3 linked regions of the Homo sapiens genome follow. The protein of the gene in region 1 interacts with the protein of each later gene in a pairwise test. Each region holds a gene or a part of one and is shown on either strand. Other genes may lie near its edges.

The links.
Region 2: the proteins of TBC1D13 (region 1) and ARHGEF5 interact in binary tests that used the Homo sapiens proteins (3 or more experiments, as listed by UniProt).
Region 3: the proteins of TBC1D13 (region 1) and SPDYE4 interact in binary tests that used the Homo sapiens proteins (3 or more experiments, as listed by UniProt).

The regions. Positions count from the first base shown.
Region 1 is NC_000009.12:128,783,306-128,790,258, reverse strand, and holds the start of TBC1D13 (TBC1 domain family member 13), read right to left. Parts: upstream 3,007-6,953; 5' UTR 2,906-3,006; coding exon 2,883-2,905; intron 1,926-2,882; coding exon 1,852-1,925; intron 1-1,851. UniProt on the Homo sapiens protein: Acts as a GTPase-activating protein for RAB35. Together with RAB35 may be involved in regulation of insulin-induced glucose transporter SLC2A4/GLUT4 translocation to the plasma membrane in adipocytes.
Region 2 is NC_000007.14:144,351,162-144,358,418, reverse strand, and holds the start of ARHGEF5 (rho guanine nucleotide exchange factor 5), read right to left. Parts: upstream 3,018-7,257; 5' UTR 2,918-3,017; exon of another isoform or gene 2,701-2,917; intron 1-2,700. UniProt on the Homo sapiens protein: Guanine nucleotide exchange factor which activates Rho GTPases. Strongly activates RHOA. Also strongly activates RHOB, weakly activates RHOC and RHOG and shows no effect on RHOD, RHOV, RHOQ or RAC1.
Region 3 is NC_000017.11:8,755,530-8,762,810, forward strand, and holds the start of SPDYE4 (speedy protein E4), read right to left. Parts: upstream 3,018-7,281; 5' UTR 2,854-3,017; coding exon 2,745-2,853; intron 1,964-2,744; coding exon 1,733-1,963; intron 908-1,732; coding exon 849-907; intron 77-848; coding exon 1-76.

The sequences.
Region 1 (6,953 bases):
TGGAGACAAAGTCTTGCTCTGTTGCCCAGGCTGGAGTGCAATGGCGTGATTTCTGCTCACTGCAACCTCCGCCTCCCCGGTTTAACTAATTCTTCTGCCTCAGCCTTGCAAGTAGCTGGGATTACAGATGTGTGCCACCACTCCTGGCTAATTTTTGTATTTTTAGTAGAGACAGGGTTTCACCATATTGGCCAGGCTGGTCTCGAACTCCTGACCTCAGGTGATCCACCTGCCTCAGCCTCCCAAAGTGCTGAGATTACAGGTGTGAGCCACCATGCCCGGCCTGAAATGTTCTTTTGAGGATAACACCTTCTCATCCTTGATATTCCTTCCTCAGGAGCAGCCTTTACCACCACCATGTCATCCTAATTCAGGTCAGTTCCCCCTGTTATAAGCAATAATGGCTCTGTGACTATTTCATAGCATCTGTCATAAGTGGAATTATTATATATATATATATATATATGGTGTATTTTCTTAACGTCTGTAACCCCTACTACTGGGTAAGCCCCAGAAGGACAAAAACCACATCTATTATTCCCAGTGCATAGCACAGAGCACTGCACATAGAAGATATTCCATACATATTTGTGGAATATAAACTAAGCTACGAATGCTAAGTATTTTGTGCTTTACAGATATTATTTCATTTAATCTTCATTATTACCCCAGTAAGTAGGGAAGATTAACGTAATTGTCGTAAGAAGGAAACTTATCTGTAAAACTCTTAACTACTAACACTGACTGCCTCTCCTTTGGGGCCTATATTTCACTCCTAAACAGAAAGACAAAGTTATCCTGCAATAAGATCAGGAAGCTCACTACCGCAGTTGCTGCTGTAGTATCCCTGGTACCATGAACATGAGTGAATACCTCCACTTCAGAATCTATATGAGGATGACAGGGACAATATAAGAAGTTCTTTTTTTTTTTTTTTTTTTTGAGATGGAGCTTCACTCTTGTCGCCCAGGCTGGAGTGCAATGGCGCAATCTCGGCTCACTGCAATTCCCAGGTTCAAGTGATTTTCCTGCCTCAGCCTCCCGAGTAGCTGGGATTACAGGCAAGTGCCACCAAGCCCAGCTACTTTTTTATATTTTTAGTAGAGACTAGGTTTCACCATGTTGGCCAGGCTGTTCTCGAACTCCTGACCTCAGGTGATCCACCTGCCTTGGCCTCCCAAAATGTTGGGATTACAGGCATGAGCCACGGCACCCGGCCAGAAGTTCTTGCTGGCAAAGTTACAAGGGCAAAAAAGTGACAAGAAGCTATGCAGAACACGTTGGGATATTTTTTAAAACAGGCAAAAAGAGAGTTATCTTTGTGCTCATTGGGGCAAAGTCTAACACAGCAGGATCAGCTCCTTAAAGTCAGTGTCCCAAGGCTACCCATTTTACCACTAGCCAAGGTTTAGTTCAGGCAGCTTAGACCCCAAGCCAGGGAGAGAACAAGGAACAACCCTGCAGTTAACCAAACTCACCAACACAGGAAGCTAGCTAAGGAATGAGGAAAGACTGTCCTGGGCTCAAAAGGTCCCAACTCTCATTCTCCAGGCTTCAGTCCTGTCCTGTTACTCTCAGGAATCTGGCACCTCCTGCGGAAAGCTTAGGAAAGCTTAGGGCATGCTAAGTGTGGCCACTGCCCCTCTGGGAAACCCCTCCAAGCTCAAGGCAGTCACTGCCTGTTCAGCTCTACAGAATCTGGAAAAGGCCCCAAGAGTCTGTGTGTAATTTCCTTCCAAGGCCCCAGCCCCCAGCAGCTGGGCCCCAGAGCTGACCAGGTGTGGCCTCCCCCTGTATTCTAGCCACAGGGCTGCTGTAGGGAAACCGTGAAAATACAGAATGGCTTCTTACCACTAAAGCTGAGTTCCCGCAGCTTTTCCAATGCAATTGAGGGCTCCTTCAGGACATCCTGGAAATCTGCAATTCTGGAAGGGGAGATAGGGCGGCAAATGAAGCATGCTGATATCGGCTCAGTGAGACCCACAGCCCTCAGCTCCCTCACACTGCCAGTTTCCAACCTGTGCCTCTCTCCCCTTTAGGACATAAAAATCACACAGCTTAGTCAAGGTCCTCACCAAAGACAGCTTTGGAGAACAACAAAACTATATTTCACTTCTTCCTCTACAACCAGAAACACAGAATGCCAGGGAAGAAACTTGAGAGATATTCTTGTCTAGAAGTTCCCAAATGAGGACCATAAAATTAGACATATTCCAACATTCTAATACTTAGTGAGCTGACATTTACTGGGCACTTCCTGCCGGCCAGGCCGGGTCCACGCACAGCCACCAACTGAACTCCTTGGACCTCAGGAACCAGGAGTAATTTGATATGCAGACAATGGACCATGCTCACAAATATAACCATTACAAGACCTCTGGGCCTGCCAGAAGGCAAGGACAAAGGGTTTAAAAAACACGTCCTGAAGGAAAACTGAAGAGTGAGCAAAATTCAGCCAATGCTGCAGGATCTGGCCTGGGGGAGGGGCCAGACTGGAGAATGCAAGTTCTCTAGCAATCCTAGTAAGAAAAAGGCACGGGGGACAGGGTGCACTTGGAGAGAGTACGGGAGCAGGGGGATCAAAAGGGGGAAAGGCACGGGGGCGGGGCATGGGGGTCTGGATGAGGAAGACTCAGGGGAAGGGGGACACCAGGGGTCCAGGATGAGGGAGGCAGAAGCAGTGACATCAGGGGCAGGAGAAGGGCCGCCCCTCCGTCGTTCCTGCAGCCCACAGGCAATGAGGTTAGAAGGTGGACGCTCGAGACCCTCTGCCGAGGGGGTCTGCCGATTCCTGGCCACACCCGCGCTTCCCCCTTCTGAGGGGCAGAAGGGGCAGCCTGGCCAGGAGTGGCCCAGCCGGGTCAGGCCCCATGGCCCCTTACCGGCTCTTGTGCAGACTTGACATGGTGTTGACTTCCGGACCCCCCAGCCGCCTCCGCCGCCTGCGCCTCTGCCGCCTGCGCTGCCGCCGCCGCCGCCGCCCCCCAGGGACGCGGGGCTCTGCGCAAAAGCCTCCGGCGGGAAACACAGCCACTAGCCTGCGCGTTCCACCGCCTCAGCCCCGCCCCGCCCCGCCAGTCACGTGCCACCCCTCGACTCTCACGCTTCCACACGGTACTGGCGGCTACGGCCGGCCGGGTTGAGCGGGGCAACCTCGGGTCTGGTGGGCGTGGCAATCGCGGGCCGGGAGCCCCAGCGCCGCCGACCCTGCGGGCCAAATTTGAGAACCCGCCGGTGACAGCGCAGACTGTGTGTCTCTGGACTATTCCTTGCGCTTCCCTGGGCCTCAGTGTCTACTTACGCAATATACCTGTCACCCTGTCGTCTTCCCTGCACTCACCCCCCTGTAATTAACTACTGCATGATTGTTACAGGAGTCTCGGCCTCCCCTGCTAAACTGTTCAGGCCCCCCAGCTTATCTTGGTCTCTGCAGAATCCTCAAGGCCTGTATAGCAGGGACTCGCATGAACCGCCGTGCGCGGCCCAACTTTTTTTTTTTTTATAAAAACTATACCAGCAAACCCTATAAAATGTAAGTTAGGAAGAAAGAAAAAAACACAAATGATATCTTAAGAAAAATAGGCTGGACCGGGCGCGGTGGCTCATCCCTGTAAATTCCAGTGCTTTGGGAGGACGAGGCAGGCAGACCACTTGAGGTCAGGAGTTGGAGACCACTCTGGCCAACACGGTGAAACCCCGTCTCTACCAAAAATGCAAAAATTAGCCGGGCGTGGTGGCAGGCGCCTGTAATCCCAGCTCCTCGAGATTACCTTCTTTACAAAAGATGTAAAAATTAGTTGAGTAGGCCGGGCGTGGTGGCTCACGCCTGTAATCCCAGCACTTTGGGAGGCTGAAGCGGGCAGATCACCAGGTCAGGAATTTGAGAACAGCCTAACCAACATGGTGAAACCTCGTCTCTACTAAAAATACAAAAATTAGCCGGGTGTGGTGACGCACAACTGTAATCCCAGCTACTCAGGAAGCTGAGGCAGGAGAATTGCTTGAACCCGGGAGGCGGAGCTTGCAGTGAGCCGAGATAGTGCCACCGCACTCCAATAGCGCCACCGCACTCCAACCTGGGCAAAAACGCAAGACCCTGTCAAAAAAAAAAAAAAAAGAAAAGAAAAGAAAAGAAACTGCTTAAAGATTTTCCGAAATGGTTGTATTATTTAACACCTTTTTCTTGAGAAAAAAAAAAAAAGAAAGAAACAGCTAGCCAGGCGCGGTGGCTCACGCCTGTAATCCCAGCACTTTGGGAGGCCAAGGAGGGCGGATCATGAGGTCAGGAGATCGAGACCATCCTGTCTAACACGGTGAAACCCCATCTCTACTAAAAAATACAAAGAAAAAAATTAGCCGGGCGTGGTGGTGGGTGCCTGTAGTCCCAGCTACTCGGGAGGCTGAGGCAGGAGAATGGCATGAACCTGGGAGGCAGAGCTTGCAGTGAGTGGAGATTGCACGACTGCACTCCAGCCTGGGCGAAAGAGCGACACTCTATCTCAAAAAAAAAAAAAGAAAAAGAAAAAGAAAAGAAAGTGCTTAAATATTTTCCAAAATGGTTGTATTATTTAACACCTACCCCAGCAGTATATGAGAGTTGCTGTTGTACCACGTCCTCACCAATACTTGATGTGGTCAGTCTTTTTAATCTTAGACATTCTAGTAGATGTGAAGTGGTATCTCCTGCTTTAACATGCATTTCCCTAAAGACATATGATGTTGAGCATCTCTTCACACGTTTGCTATGCATATATACTCTTCTTTCTTTTTTTTGAGACATGGTCTCACTCTGTCACCCCAGGCTGGAGTGCAGTGGCGCAATCTCAGTTCACTGCAACCTCTGCCTACTGAGTAGCTGGGACTACAGGCGCATGCCACCATGCCCAGCTGATTTTTGTATTTTGAGGTAGAGATAGGGTTTCATCATGTTGGCCAGGCTGGTCTCAAACTCCTGACCTCAAGTGTCTGCCCACCTCAGGCCTCCCAAAGTGCTGGGATTACAGGCATGAGCTACCATGCCTGGCCTTCTTTTTTTTTTTTCTTGAGACGGAATCTCACTCTTGTTGCCGAGGCTGGAGTGCAATGGGGTGATCTCCAGCTCACGGCAACCTCTGCCTCCCGGGTTCAAGCGATTCTTCTGCCTCAGCCTCCCGAGTAGCTAGGATTAAAGGTTCATGCCACCCTGCCTGGCTAATTTTTATATTTTTTGATTTAAAAAAAATTTTGTATTTTTAGTAGAGACGGGTTTTCATCATGTTGGCCAGGCTGGCCTCAAACTCCTGACCTCAGGTTATTCTCCCTCCTCGGCCTCCCAAAATCCTGGGATTACAGGCGTGAGATACCATGCCTGGCAGCACCTGGCCTTCTAATTTTTTTTTTTTTTTGAGATGGAGTCTGGCTCTGTTGCCCAGGCTGGAGTGCAGTGGTGCAATCTCCACTCACCACAACCTCCGCCTCCTGAGTTCAAGCAATTCTCCTACCTCAGCCTCCCAAGTAGCTGGGATTATAGGCGCGCGCCAGTATGCCTGGCTAATTTTTGTAGTTTTAGTAGAGACGGGTTTCTCCATGTTGGCCAGGCTGGTCTTGAACTCCTGACCTCAGGCGATCTGCCCACCTTTGCCTCCCAAAGTGCTGAGATGACAGTCATGAGCCACCATGCCTGTCCCTATTGCCCGTTCTTTATTGTACTTTTTTTTTTTTTTTTTTTTTGAGACAGTCTCTCTGTTCTTGGCTGGGCTGGAGTGCAATGGCGCAATCTTGGCTCACAGCAACCTCTGCCTCCAGCAATTATCCTGCCTCAGCCTCCCAAGTAGCTGAGATTACAGGCGCCCACCACCACACCTGGCTAATTTTTGTATTTTAGCAGAGACGGGGTTTCACCATGTTGGCCAGGCTGGTCTCGAACTCCTGACATCAGGTGATCTACCCACCTCGGGCTCCCAAAGTGTTGGGATTACAGGCGTGCATCACCATGCCAAGCCTATTGTACTTTTTTTTTTTTTTTTTTTGATACGGAGTCTTACTCTGTCACCAGGCTAGAGTGCAGTGGCGCAATCTCGGCTCACTGCAACCTCCGCCTCCCGGGTTAAAGTGCTTCTCCTGCCTCAGCCTCCTAAGTAGCTGGGATTACAGGTGCCTGCTACCACACCCGGCTAGTTTTTGTATTTTTAGTACAGACGGGGTTTCACGATGTTAGCCAGGATGGTCTTGATCTCCTGACCTCGTGATCTGTTGTCCTCGGCCTCCCAAAGTGCAGAGATTACAGGCTTAAGGCTCCACGCCTGGCCTATTGTACATTTTTAAATCCCCACCACCACATTTTTCCCCCCCTCCCCAGGATGAGGTCTTGTTCTGTCCCCAGGCTGGAGTGCAGAGATTGCAGTGAGCCGAGATCATGCCACTGCACTCCAGGCTAGGCAACAGAGTGAGACCCTGTCTTAAAAAAAAAAGAAAAAAAAAAAAAAAGAGACAGTTATAATTGCTGACAAGGATGTGGAGAGATAGGAACCCACACATGTGCTGGAGGGAATGTAAAATGGTGCAGCTGCTATGGAAAATAGTATGACAGTTCCTCAAAAAGCTAAACATAGAATTACCCTATGACTCAGCACTTCCATTCCTAGGCATTGAAAGCATGGACAGGGCCAGGTGCAGTGGCTCTTGCTTGTAATCGCAGCACTCTGGGAGGCCAAGGCAGGAGGATTGCTTGAGGCAGGAATTCCAGACCAGCCTGGGCAACATAATGAGACCCCCGTCTCTGTAAAAAATCTTAAAATTTATCCAGGCATGGTGGCACACACCTGGTGTCCCAGCTACTCAGGAGGCTAAGGTGGGAGGATCACTTGAGCCTGGGAGGTTGGAGGCTGCAGTGAGCCATGATGATCAATCCACTGCACTCCAGCCTGGGTGACAGAGTGAGAAAAAAAAAAAAGAGAGAGAGAGAGAGAGAGAGA
Region 2 (7,257 bases), on another chromosome or scaffold:
GCCTAAGGAGACCATGGGACTAAACCTGTAGTCTCTCCTCACTTACATCTGCATGGTTCAGGCCCTCTCCTCCATATACACCATCACGTCTTCAAAACAAGTAGCCTCTAAATAAAAGTGTGTTTCTGCCATATCTAGGGTATATCTATAAATACCATGTGCTACCTGGACATTTTCTGTTCCAATCTAGTGGCACAGTGCATGCCTGCCTCTGCAAGCCCATTGACACCGTTTCTAACTGTCTTTTTTCATTTGGAAATATCAGTGGTCACCTGCTCAGCCACCAGTTACCGCAAAGGGAGAACATACCCCACGTTCCCTATACTTGATCCTATCTCAGTGATCCCGTTGCAATCAGGCATGACAAAGCTAAAATGTGACAAAGTGAAAGGAAATCTGTAAATCATGGTCTTACTCACGTAAAGGCATCAGGAGAGAGTTTTTTGCAATGCTCATTACGTTAGAGTGCAAACATCCTCATCTCCTTCTCCACTGAGGGTGAATAATCACTGTTTATCTGTGTACAGGCAAAGCCAGGGCATGGGATTATGGGGATACGGCCTTGCTTCAGACCACAGACATTCTGCATCCACATAACCTCACCCACGTGTGACTTCTTGAGAGGCAAAGCTTCAAGTCATCCCTTTAACATAATGTGTGACAGAGCTCACTATCTTCCCTAGAGCCCCCCCCAACACCTTAGCTCTTGTCTATTTCTAGTCACTAGAAACAACACTGTATTTCAAGGATACAACCCCTCCCCAATCAAACTGCCAAATCTTTGAACTGAGACTCAGTGCCATATATATATTTTTGAGGACCATGCTTCCTGGATTTTCTAGCAAGGTTGATTTCAAATATTCTGACTTACAAATCACTAAAATAATATTGAGGTTAAAATAAGATCACCACATAGATATATAACTTTATTCACTGTTTGACATCACTGCCCTCAATACTACAAAGATATCAAAACAGGGGTAGCTTTCTGGACCACTGACTACTACAGTGTGTGTTCTATCCATTGCAGGAAAGTCCCACCATGCCAGTGAAAGCTGTAATACACATTTATCTATTCTCTAATGTCTGAAAATGTCACACCAACTGCCTTATAGACCAGATAGTTTATATAAGAACATTATTAGTGTCAATGCTGACTTACACTCTACAATCTCATCTGTGGTCCTGGTGGCATACACACAGATAACATTAGTGTGAGTGACGTGTTTGTGTATTAACACAGACCTTGAGGGTGACTTTGTTCCAGTCTACCTTGCAGGCACTATAAGTGATCGGCTCCTGCTTACTCCACAGACACTGTGAGTGACCCAGCCCCTGTCTACACTAGAGCTGTTGGTCACCTGTTTGTCTACACCACTGACACTTGAGTAATGCTGCTCCCGTTGAACCCAAGACCCTACGAGTGACTCCATTCCTGTCCATACCACATAGCGACTGACCTCTCCAGACACCACAAATGACGTATTCCTGTCTATCCCACAGACACCACGTGTAACGTGGCCACGGAACCTCAGACAGACCGCGTTAAGGGCACTGATACACTCTCAGGACCTCTAATATATGAACACTCTTCTCTCTATTGAGAATCACTATATTCTGTTGATGAGAGGGATTCCTTTGCACTCCTCCTGATTTCTCTCTCCTCCCCACTAGGACCATGACATACATTCCTCCTGCATATCAGTCTCACCCAGAACTGACACGCCCTCATCCCATCTTCCCAGCTCCCCAGGACTCCTTCACTAGCCATGGCTTCACTTTTAGGCCCACAGATTGGTTAACAAATGACACCCATTTTGCTAAGGCCTATGCCAGGAACTTCTTCATGCTCCAAATGTGGATAAAACAAGACGTCTGAGACAGAGGCCACATCAAGAGCTTTTTAGCTGGAGCTGGGACCTCTGGATTAGGCCCAAGATGCAAGGCCAGACAGTGGAGTGCAGTAGGGGAGCAAGCTAGGGAGGAAGCTCGAAAGGAAAACCACCCTCTCTCATCTGTTTGACACACCCTTCTCTCTCAACCAGACAAGAGTCCTGGCCAGAGTTCACTTCTAGGTAGACAGGAGGGCAAATCTGTCTTTGGAACCCAAGATCCAGGAAGGGAAGAAAGGGACTGAGATCTGGAAATGACGTAGTATCACAACTGGCTCTCCTCCGGTAGTCTTGCCGGAAGGCAACTGCAAAAGATGCTCAGGGGTTCTAGAGCTCTGCGTCCGCATTCTAGCACCCCAACGCCTACCTCAGCCCCCAACTCTAAATAACTTCTTTCCACCTTGCTAAGAATGCAACGTTGTGATTCACATCAAGCTTTAGGAGGCTCCCCATATGTAGGGAACTGGGGTGAGGGGCAGGGCAGGATTCACTGTTCCAGGTTACGGAGCTTTGGTTAACACGGAGAGAAGCTACACATAGACTCACACAGTATGCAAATACCTATGGAGATACATAAGGAAAGGCCCCGGCCTGGTTAAGGAAAAGGAGCCGATAAAACCTCTCCAGGTAAGGAACAGCCTAGAAAGGGAATCTCAGTTATTCCTTCTGATATGGCTTAGCTTTCCCCAGGGCGCCTACTTTGAAGAAAGAGCCCTGATTATTGGCCCGGGGAACGTCTGGGGGCAGGGTGCCCATTTCCTAGGCGGGACCCGACCGGAAGCAAACTTGTAGGCAACAACATTTCCTCTAGTTCCTCTCCTCTTCCCCACCAGGGTCCTCAGCCACACACCCCGAGCCCTGCCTGCGGGCCCAGCCCCCCCATTTCCGGAGCCTGCGCCCCGGACCCAGCGGGGGCTGATCCCTGGGAAAGGCCTGGCTTCCTCTTCCTTCCTGTCCCTGCCCCACCTCCGCCGGGCTCCACAGCCGCCGGGAGCCCAGGGCCGAGACGGGAGGAGGGCACCCACCTGGTCGGTGTCACATGCTGCTTCGGCCCCAGCGTCCCCTCCAGGTCCCGGCGCCGGCCGCAGTCCCCAGAGCCGTCCCCAGCGCAGGCCCGGCCGCCCCACCCGCGGCCCGCCCCTGGCCGCCCGACGGGAGGGAGGGATCGGGTTCTCCTAGGAAGTTTCAGGTGAGGAAACAGGGACACACCTTCCCGGAGGAGGGGCAGGGCCCCTCCGCGCGCGAGCCCCATTGGTGTGAAAGAAGCTCCCGCGTCAGAGCTGGGAAGTGCCGGGCCGGCGGGGAGGGGAGCCCGGGCGCACGGGCCAGGCCGCGGGCTGTCCCAGGGAGCCCCGAGGGCGCGGTGCGCGGGCGCAGGTCGGGCGCAGGCGGGGTGACCCGGGGAAGGGGCGCGCACAGAGACAGAGGGAGCCAGCCGGGCCCCACGGTGTCCTCGGACGCCTCCGAAATCTCCCTGCGTGTTTGTTTCTTCGGAGCTTCACCGGAGCCTGACTCTGGAACCGGCCTGTCTGCCTGCTGCAGTCTGTATGTGTTTGTCTTTTGCCTTGGCCGTGCCTCTGGAAGTCTGACATCCGTGGTTGTACATGTGTCTTTATCTTCAGGCCTCATTGGTTTTTGGTTTGTTCGTTGTTGTTGTTGTTGTTGTTGATGTTGTTGTTGTTGTTGTTGTTGTTGTTGTTTCTGAGACGGAGTCTCGCCCTGTTGCCCAGGCTGGAGTGCAATGGCGCGATCTCGGCTCACTGCAACCTCCGTCTCCGGGTTCAAGAGATTCTCCTGCCTCAGCCTCCCGAGTAGCTGGGATTACAGGTCCGCGCCACCATGCCCGGCTAATTTTTGTATTTTTTAGTAGAGGCCGGGTTTCGCCATGTTGGCCAGGCTGGTCTGGAAACTCCTGACCTCAGGTGATGCACCCGCCTCGGCCTCCCAAAGTGCTGGGATTACAGGCGTGAGCCACCGCGCCCGGCCAAGGCCTCAGTGTTGATTTCTCTTCCGTGATGTCTCCTCCTATAGAATAAAGAGTGTCTCCTCCATCTCCTCCTCCGCCCCCTTCTTCGTTTCTCTCTCTCTCTCCCTCCCTCCTCCCCCCTCCCTGTCCCTCTCCCTGCCTCTTCCTCTCCCCTCTTCCTTCTCCTACTTAGGGCCTAGAAGTGTGCCTCTCTGAAAGGACATGCCCGTGTCCTTCTGTATTCCCGAGTTTATTTTAGAATGAGTGCGTATCTCAGGGTGTATGTTCCTTCTAGGGCCTGTGTGTGTGTGTGTGTGTGTGTGTGTGTGTGTGTATTTAAATCTCTAAGCCCATGTTTGTGTGTTTTCTTATGCCTGTATTTTTTTTTTTATTCTTTCAGGGAAACGTTGTGTTCTGTTAGTCTTGGAGGCCAAGGCTGAGTGGGTTTATCTCTGTGCCCCTCCAGTGACTTCAAAGAATGCCAAAAGTCTCTCGAGTGTGCCTGTGTGCACACACAGACACACACAAAGTAGGAATCCTTTACCTGGGGGACAGAGATTTCTGTTATTTTTGGTTGAATCTGACCACTCCCCAAAGCCATTCACTACTCCAGGGGTTTCCATGGTGACATAAGTCAAGTGAAATATTAATGGACTCCTTGCCTATTTTGCTCTTAGGAATGCCATGGTCTACAGCCCAAACAGCTTGGCTAGACCATTTCCAGATCACTGTGCCCATTGGCTGTTGCCAATGATCCTGGTTGAACGTGTTCACTAGTTATTTTGAGGTGGCTGTAGAATAGAATGTAATTAAGGAAGTATAGCCTCTTCTGTAATAGAGTCCTGAACAGCTTTATGTTAAAAAAGTGTGCTACTTCTGCCATGTTACTCTGAAGGATTAAGTCTTAAACAGTTCAGCAGTTTTCAGCCTACTCTAAGCTGCCATGGAGTGTATGGGAAACTATAGGAAAAATTGGGATTAAGACTCAAAAATCTGGATTAAGAAGGGCAGGCCTTGCATGTGTCCTAGGCTCAGCAAAAGGGTAAGAACTGGGAGTACAGAAAGGCAAAAAGTTCAAACTGGGACTGGCTCTACTTCTAGGCTGGAATACAAAACTCATTCCCAGGTATGAGAGGGTCCTTGATTTATACCGAGTGAGCAAAGTGAGTAAACTTCTGATCTAGGGCAGAAGCTGTTGACCTCTGGGTCGGGTGCGGTGACTCACAACTGTAATCCCAGCACATTGGGAGGCCTTGGCCGGTGGATCACCTGAGTTCAGGAATTTGAGGCCAGCCTGGCCAAACATGGCGAAACCCCTTCTCTACTGAAAATACAAAAATTAGCTGGGCTTGGTGGTGGGCACGTATTCCCAGCTACTTGGGAGGCTGAGGCAGGAGAATTGCTTGAACCCAGGAGGCAGAGGCTGCAGTGAGCTGAGATTGCACCACTGCACTCCAGCCTGGGTGACAGAGTGAGACTCTGTCTAAAAAATACAAAAAAAAAAAAAATTGTTGACCTCTGGCATATTTCATGCTGCCTACTGGGGGTGGGCAATGGGGTCAGAGGTACCAGAACTGCCTCCTGAACCAGCCTGGCTATTCTTTCTGCTTCCCTCCAGCTTCAGTTGGTTCTCCTTGATTACAGCGCTCTCTCTCTCTCTCTCTCTCTCTCTCTCTCTTTTCTCATCAACTCGACCTCCTCTTGTTCTGCCAGCTCTGACTTGTCAGCATATTTTTTTTTGAAGTCACAACCCTGGATTCTTGTGCGCTTGTCCAGAGAGTTAGCACACAAGGCTTTTCCTGACTTTTCAACTAGTAGGAAAGTTACAACCGACCATTTAGGGAGTTTGCTCTTCCCATCAAGACTGTTCCTGTCTGCAGGGTGTATTTGCATGTGGAGGTCACTCTAGCTCTCCCAGGTATTCTTCCTTTCACTTTGCAGACTATGGTTCTCAGCATTTTATTATTTTTTTTCTTTTTCATTTCTTACTGCGTGGTCTTGGTGACTGGGTTTCTTAATCAAGCCTGTCATCCCATCCTGAGATTTTGATATTTTATTTGGGCCTATATTTCCTCTATAAAGGCCTAGAGAGGAGAGAGAATGATGCCATGGAAAGAGAATGAGATTTAGATTCAGACAGGGGTAAATTTGAATCCTGCATTCCATTTACTTAATGTGAAATCTTGGGCATATTCACCTTCCTGTGCTTTCTCTGAATCTTCCTACGTTTCATTTCCCTAATGTCTTAATTGGGGATAATAATATGTAATGATACCTACGTCACTGGATTGTTGTGGTGATTCAATACTGTAATATATAGAAATCACCTTAGTATAAGTACCTGATGTGTAAAGGTGGCCAAGATGGGTTAGTTTCCTTTCCTAGCAGTGCCTGTCAGTGATGCATGTGGAATGAATATGTTTATAAGAACAAAGTGATAGGGGCTGGGAACAGTAAATAGATTCAAAATAAAGCTATTTTAAAATGAAAGCCCTATTAGACGAGGCTGAATAAAAATAGCTTCTAGAACTTGGGACTACTTTAATTGACAATAATGCCTTTAAGATCAAGTTATGGGGCTTGGGGAGAGGCAGGGAACAATCTTGTATAGTTCTAGGTATCAGGACTAAAGGAATGACAATGACCTTTTTTGAAGCAGGAACTCATCAGCATTATCCCTAGGGCTGTCATTGTCCTGACTAGATACTGTCATGGTGCCACCATCCCACATGACTGGCTGCATTGTTCCCACGTGGTGAACTCTCTCTGACTCTCAGCTGGTCCAGTGCTAGTTCTTGGAACACTCCTAAGGCCTTTCTGCCTCTGCTTTTTGCCTGATCCTGTGACCCAACATTGAACCTTTCGAACTGATTTTGAACTCAGTTCTTCTTTTTTTTGAGATGGAGTCTCGCTCTGTCGCCAGGCTGGAGTGCAATGGCGTGATCTCGGCTCATGGCTACCTCTGCCTCCTGGGTTCAAGCGTTTCTCCTGCCTCAGCCTCCTGAGTAGCTGGGATGACAGGCATGTGCTGCCACACCCGGCTAATTTTTGTATGTTTAGTAGAGATGGGGTTTCACCATATTGGTCAGGCTGGTCTCGAACTCCTGACCTCATGATCTGCCTGCCTCGGCCTCCCAAAGTGCTGGGATTATAGGCATGAGCCACCGTTCCTGGCCCCAGTTCTTCTGTTAATGGGGCTGACCGTGGTCTCTCCATTCATCTCTGTTGAAGCCAGGCTGGCTTGACCACTGTGGTTCTTAGCTATCTTCTTCTATTCTGTTTTTTTGTTTTATTTTATTTTATTTTATTTTTCAGAGATGGAGTCTTGCTCTGTCCAGCCCAGGCTGGAGTGCAGTGGCACGATCTAGGCTCACTGCAACCTCTGCCTCCTAGGTTCAA
Region 3 (7,281 bases), on another chromosome or scaffold:
AGAAATGAATGCGTTGGTATTGCCACGAGAAGAGGCCGGCACGGCTAAAATACGCTATGACCATAGCCAGGAGATACTGATGGAGAGAAGGGAGTAGAGAGAGAGAAAGGTTGGTCACATCCTGGAAGAGGAAGATGGTGGAGAGAAGGGAACAGGGGCTGGGGCGCGGTTGTCTATCACAGAAGGAACCTCAGTGTTGGGTGACTATGCTCATTGGGGGCTTGCGGGTGGAGAGTGTTCAAAGTCAGCTGCAAATCCGGGAAGTCGGAGGGAGGGAGGTCTGTGATGCTCCCATGATGATGAGCTCCAGTGGGATCACTGGAGGGAGAGTGTCTAGGGCTGCTAATGTCAGGAGGGTCTTGGTGAGCTGGGGCAAAGGACTGTCCCAAAGATCTGAGAGGATAGGGGTCAGGAGTTTCAAGACTGGCCCAGGGCCTGGATTCCAAAGGACCCTGTGCAGAGGCAGGGGCCACCCATCAACTATGCAACAGGCTACCAGAGCCCCGAGGGAGATGCTGACAAATTATGAGAAGACCTAGAATAGCTGGGGGCGGTGACTCACGCCTGGAGTCCCAGCTATTGGAGAGGCCGAGGCGGGAGGATCACTTGAGCCCAGGAGGCTGAGGCTGCAGTGAGCTATGATGGCAACACTGCATTCCAGCCTGGGCAACAGAACGAGACCCTGTTTCTGAAAAAATAAAAATCAAAATGTGGGCGCCCAAGAGTATGGAATCAGCAGGTGGGAGATGGTAGAGGGAGAGAGGAGAGAAACTGTGGGTTTAGACGCTGCACCCTTCCCCAGGACGTGTGTTAAAGCAGGAACACAGTTGAGTGGAGAACAACCTTACCTTGTCTGACACCCTCAGGTCTTTGTCCCAGGCCAGGAATTTTTGAACGACAGGATCCCCTGTGAAAAGAGAGCCTGTGTCAGGGTGAGAAGTGGAACAGGGTTGCCGTGGGAGCAGCAGAGCAGAGAGGAGAACTGTGTCCCTCTGGGGGAAGTCTCAGGATTGTGGCCAAGGCTTAGGTGGATGGGAGAGGAGAGAAGGACTTTCACTGGGCAAGGAGGGAGGCTCCCGCTCTGAGATTCCCCTGAGGAGAGGCCGAAGGAGGCCTCTGGTGTCAGAGTCTACAGGATGAAGAGCTGTGAATAAGCCATGATGTCCTCCCATCAGACAGGAAGGGACCACTGCAGAAGTCATAATAGAATTCCCATCATTGCTTCCTGAGATAGTCACAGCTGGGTGTGCCCATGGCCTTGTTATCCCCCTCCACGGATGGAGACACTTAGGTTTAGAAAAGTCATCAAGAGACATAGAGTTTCAGAGGGTACAGCTGAAACCAAGCTTTCTTTTATCTTTTATTTTATTTTATTTTATTTATTTTATGACAGGGTCTTTCCTTGTCAACCAGGCTGGAGTGCAGTGGTGCAATCATAGCTCATTGCAACTTCAAACTCCTGAGTTCAAGAGATCCTCCCGCCTCAGCCTCCCAAAGCACCAAGATCTCAGGCATGAGCCACTGCACCTGGCCAGAAACCAAGCTTTCTTATTTCAAGTGCAGACCTTTATTAAGACTAGCCTAATCCTCTATCTCCTAAGCATCCTCCTCCTGCATGGAGCGCTCATCCCCCAGGAGGGCATATTCTTCTTATTGGGAAAGTGTGATTATTGAAAGATTCCACTTTTTTAAAAGAACAGGGTTGGAGGTGCTTTTTGGGGTATCCTCCTACCAAGGAGCCTGTTGAAGGCCTCGTGGTGCTCAGGGAGCACGGAGGATGCTCGCTTTCGCTTCAGCTTCATCTTGAGCCCACACAGCGTCTCCACCACCCAGGTGTCCTCGGGCTCAGGGGCGCGCTCCAACTCCAGCTCCTCCTCCAGCTCCTCCTCGGATTCGTCTGACCATTCGCTCTTCCTTTTCAGGCCAAGGGATTGAGGCTGGGGGCTGGGATCTATCCAAGGGGCTGAGTGAAGAAACCAGGCCATGGTGTCATGTTTCTGCCATTGATCACCTTAGACGCCCCGACCCAGGAACCTCAAACTACTCTTCCATCCTCCCAAGCCTCGCAGACTGTCAGCTTCTCCAAGCCATGTTTCCACCTTTCTCCTTTGCTGATCCCCATCTGCCTCTCCCTCACCTCCCCATTCTTCCGGCTCTCTGTCCTCAAAACATTTCCTCATCACAGATAAGAACTTTCAATTGGAGAAAAATGGAAACCTTCCCTTGAGCTCTGTCTGCTCTCTCTCTCTCTCTCTCTTTTTTTTTTTTTTGAGATGGAGTCTCCCTCTTGTTGCCCAGACCGGAGTGCAGTGGCACAATCTTGGTTCACTGCAACCTCCGCCTCCTGGGTTCAAATGATTCTCCTGCCTCAGCCTCTTGAGTAGCTGGGACTACAGGCACGCACCACCATGCCCAACTCACTTTTGTATTTTTGGTAGAGACAGGGTTTCATCGTGTTAACCAGGATGGTCTCGATCTTCTGACCTCGTGATCCGTCCGCCTCGGCCTTCCTCTCTCATCTTTTGAGCACATCTCCTGACCCCCTTCATTGCTCCCCAGACTTTCTTTACACGTGGCCATGCTTGGCCCCATTCCCTGCACCCTCCTTCCCCGATCCCTGGCTTCCTGAGTCCGTCGTTTCTTTCCCACACACCCTACTCAGGTGCTTCAGATTCCCAGTAACTGGCCCCCTTCCCTCTCCTCAGTCAATCATCTCCCATCGCTTCTCCCTCCAGTCACCTCACCTGATGGTCCTGGCACTTCATCATCCACCACCACCTCGGGGGACCGTACCGTTGTGCTAGGCTGGGGGCTCTCCTCCTCAAACGGGGGGCGCGCTTGACCACTGGCCATAATCTCTCCCAAACACTTTGTTTCTGTCCACAAAACCTAGTCCCTGTTCTGTCCAAAGCCTTCTTCCAGACTCCGTTAGGACCCAGAAGAGTGCGTTTCTCTTCTAGAGGCTCGGGAGAAGTTAGGAGTGAAGAGTAGTTCTGAGAAGTTGCTGTTGTCCACCTGAACTCCCAAGCAACCAGAGTCCGGTCCTTCCAATCAGGAAAGTCGGAATCTCTGATGTCATCGGTCATTCCAAACTGGCAACTACTTTGAAGAAAAACACATGTAACTGCCAGACTGATCTCTTTTCTTGGAGATCCGGGGTGAACGGTATCTCCTGGCAATGTCCCAACCTCTGAGCATTGTCCAAAAGCATCCTCAGGGTCTCCACATTCCTCTTTTCCCTGTCCCAGCAGAGGCTGTGTCCTCTCCACTCTAAACTTGAGGGGGTGTTGGGCTCTCCTCCCCGCTTCTCCTTCCCATTTCAGAGTCTAGTCTGGTGAGAGAGGGAGGAAGGTGGAAGGAAATTTAGGGTAAGCAGAATGATGAGTCCTTCCAAGAGTGAGATTAACATATACAGGAGATCCTGGGTAAATTGACTTGTTGAATGGAGACGTTACGTCGAAGTACTCAATGTGGCAAAGCTTTTTTGCTGAATGTTTACTGATATTCACTATCCTGGATCCTATAGTAGGGGAACATGCATCCTTTGCTCTCAGGCATCTTTGAGTCCAAGAGACATTTTGAGGAATGAAAATCACAGGAGACTGTCCATGGTTTCGTACAGATTTTCAATGGTGTCCACAAGTTCAGGGCATCCATGGATCACCTAAAGCCTGCCCTCCAGTTCAGCTAAGGAACTCTGGTCTATATATCAACTATTACAACATATCTATTTCACTTGACCCCAAAATTTGCCTACTATTTATGTATTTTATGAATAAAATATCCTGTGTATAAAAAGACTAAGGGGAAAATCTCAGCCAGGCCCAGGGGCTCCTGCTCATAATCTCCCTCCTTTGGGAGGCCAAGGCAGGGCGTCACTTGAGGTTAGGAGTTCAAGATTAGTCTGGGCAACATAGCAAAACGTCATCTCTACAAAATATAAACAAAGTAATCAGGAATCGTGGCACACACCTGTGGTCCCAGTACTTGGGAGGCTGAGGCAGGAGGATTGCTTCAGCCCAAGTGTTTGAGGCTGCAGTGAGCTATGATTGCACCACTGCACACCAGCCTGGAGGACAGAGTGAGACTCAGTCTCAAAAATATTTTTTTCGGAAAAAATAAAAATGTAAGAGCTGGATACTATCTCAGATACCATCCAAAGAACCTGTGAGTTCTGGCACAGCTTCCTAATGGGCTCCTAGGAGTCTCTCGCTGATGGGAAAGGCACAACTGAATGAGGAGGCAGATCCCGTCGCTGTGGAAGTCCAATTGTTAGGAAACTCTGCTTACATTGAGTGGACCTTCGCATTCACGATGCTTTCAACCATCAGAACTGGTTGGATCCTTTTACAACAAAACAGAAAATCATCTTTCTCTCCTATTTAATAGGCTTTCAAACATTAGAAGATCAATATTCTGTTGCCATTAAAATTTCTCTTCTGTACCACGTAAAGTTCTGATTAATCACTCTTCAAGCCAGTTTTACATATTCCTCTGTCTTCTAGGCACCTTCTGTAGACAGGCTACAATAAGGCAGCCATCTTAAATTATGTCAATACATTGTCCAAAAATGAGCTAAACAGTTCAGGTTTCATCTGATATGTTCAGGGAAAAGCAAAACTATCACTTCTCCCCTTCTCTTTTCCTTCAGTGATGCAGGTTAATACAACAATGGCTGTAGCTATGCACCAAAGATATCATTAGAGTGAAACAGAAGGGCTTTATTGGCTGGCATGGTGGCTCCTGCCTGTCATCCCTACACTTTGGGAGGCCAAGGCTGGAGAATCACTTGAACCCAGGAGTTGGAGATGAGTCTGAGTAACGTTGTGAGACTCCGTCTCTCCAAAAAAATTTAAAATTAGCCTGGTGTGGTGGCACACACCTGTAGTCCCAGCTAGTTCGGAGGCTGAGTTTGGAGGAGAAGAAGTGCTTTGCAAATACCAGCCTTTCAGCCTAAGGATCTCAACTAGGAACATTAAGATACAGATGCCAGGACCCAGCCCCACAGATTCTAATTCCAAAGGACTGAGGTGGGGGCTGATTTAACTTCATCATTGGAGTCCATTCAGATTTGGAACTCTCTGGGTGGGGCAGCGCAATAGAGATCCCAAAGAAAGCAAAATCACTCTCGAATGAAATGAGCAGGAAAGATTTTTTGAGCGAGGTAAGTAAGACCTGGGCCTCACATGGGAGGGCTGTCACCAGGCTTTGTATCCTTGGCTTAGTGGGAACTTTTGAAGCAGCCTCCAAGGCCCCTGTATGCTGGTCGACAAGCCCCCTAACATTGGCTCACAACTGTAATTCCAGCACTTTGGGAGGCCAAGGCAGGAGGATTGCTTGAGCGCAGCAGTGCAAGACCAGCCTGGGCAACTTGGCGAAACCCTGTCTCCACCAAAGTATAAAAAACTAGCCTGGGTGTGGTGGCGCATGCCTGTACTGCCAGCTACTCAGGAGGTTGAAGTGGGAGGATCATTTGAGCCTGGGAGGCGAAGGCTGCAGTGAGGCGAGTTAACGCCACTGCACTCAAGCCTGGGTGACAGAGTGAGACTGCATCTCAATTAAAAGAAGAAACACTAAAAATTTTCACTGAGAATATAAAAGAACTGAATAGAGACTTACAAAATGTCTAAATGATGTTTCAATATGGTAAAACTGTACATTCAATCCAAATGAATTTAGGAATTTAATGCGATTGCAATCAGAATCTCAAAGAGTTTTTCCCCCCGCAGATGTTGACAGAACAATGTAAAAGTTTATCTAGAGAATTGAGTACTTAAGGAACCATCACAAAAGAAGAATGAGAGGGAATGTCCACTGCCAGACACCAAAATGTGTTCTAAGGTGAAAGTGTTAAAACAGCATGTTGCTAGTGTCACTCCGGCAAAATCCTCAAGTGCTCTAAGAGCTTGGGCAAGTATCTTGCTCTAAGATAGCCCTGACTTTGTGAGCTGCCTAAAGGCATGAAAATCCACAATTTTCAAAGACACTTCTGACCAAAACCAAAACAAGACCAAACACAAATCTGGATCTGGAGGCCTGAAACGGGTTACAGGGTCCCAGTTTATGATCCTTGATACAATCAAGAGAATAGAAAGTTCAGAATAAACCCAAGTTTCTATAGGAATGCATTAAATGCTGTCATGGCATATCCCAGTGGGGAAAGTAGAGATTAAGCCACAAATCATGCGATCACAACTAGCTCATTATTTGGAAAACAGACATATACAAATCAAATTCCAGGTGGATTTATTTAAATGGGAAATTAAATGTTCAATGTGAAAATTCATTCTGTAGCAGGATATCCAATGGAAAGGATACTTTTCTGTTTTTTGCCACTGGTGAGAGAGCTGCCAGAACACAGCCTTCATCCTCAGAAGTCACAAGGCTCACACATCATATCTGAGCCTCTGAAGACTTTACCAGTCTAATTCACAAGTTTAAATTCCAACCCAAAATGTAGAGTCTTCATTTCCCTGCTCCTCAGTGCTGTGAACTGAATCTGTGCCCCCAAAATTCATATGTTGAAACCCTATATTAGTCCGTTTTCACGCTGCTGATAAACACATACCCAAGACTAGGAAGAGAAAGAGGTTTAAATTGGACCCACAGTTCCACATGCCTGGGGAGGTTTCAGAATCATGGCAGGAGGTGAAAGGCACTTCTTACGTGGCGGCGGCAAGAGAAAATGAAAGGGAAGCAAAAGCGGAAACCCCTGATAAACCCTTCAGATCTCCTGAGACTTATTCACTATCAGGAGAATAGCATGGGAAAGACCGGCCCCCACGACTCAGTTACCTCCCCCTGGGTCCCTCCCATGACATGTGGGAATTTTGTGAGATACAATTCAAGTTGAGATTAGAATGGGAACACAGAAAAACCATATCAAACCGTAATCTCCAACGTAATGGTACTTGGATATTCAGCCTTTGGGAGGTAATTAGCTCCTAAGGGTGGTGTCCTCACGATGGGTTTAGTGCCCTCTCTCTTAGAAAAGAAAGAGCTTGCTTTCTCTCTCTTTGCTGTCTGCCATGTGAGGGAGCAATAGGATGACAGCCATCTGCAAACCAGCAAGCTGAACTTCAGCAGACACTGCCTCTCCAGGCACCCTGATCTTGGACTTCCCAGCCTCCAGAACTGTGAGAAAGAAATGTTTAAGATTCCCAGTCTATGGTAATTTGTTAGAGCAGCCCAGACTGACTAAGACACTCACCAATATAGTATGTTATCAATCTCTTAAACTTTTGCCAGTCTGATAGGTGAACTTATACATCTGTATACAGC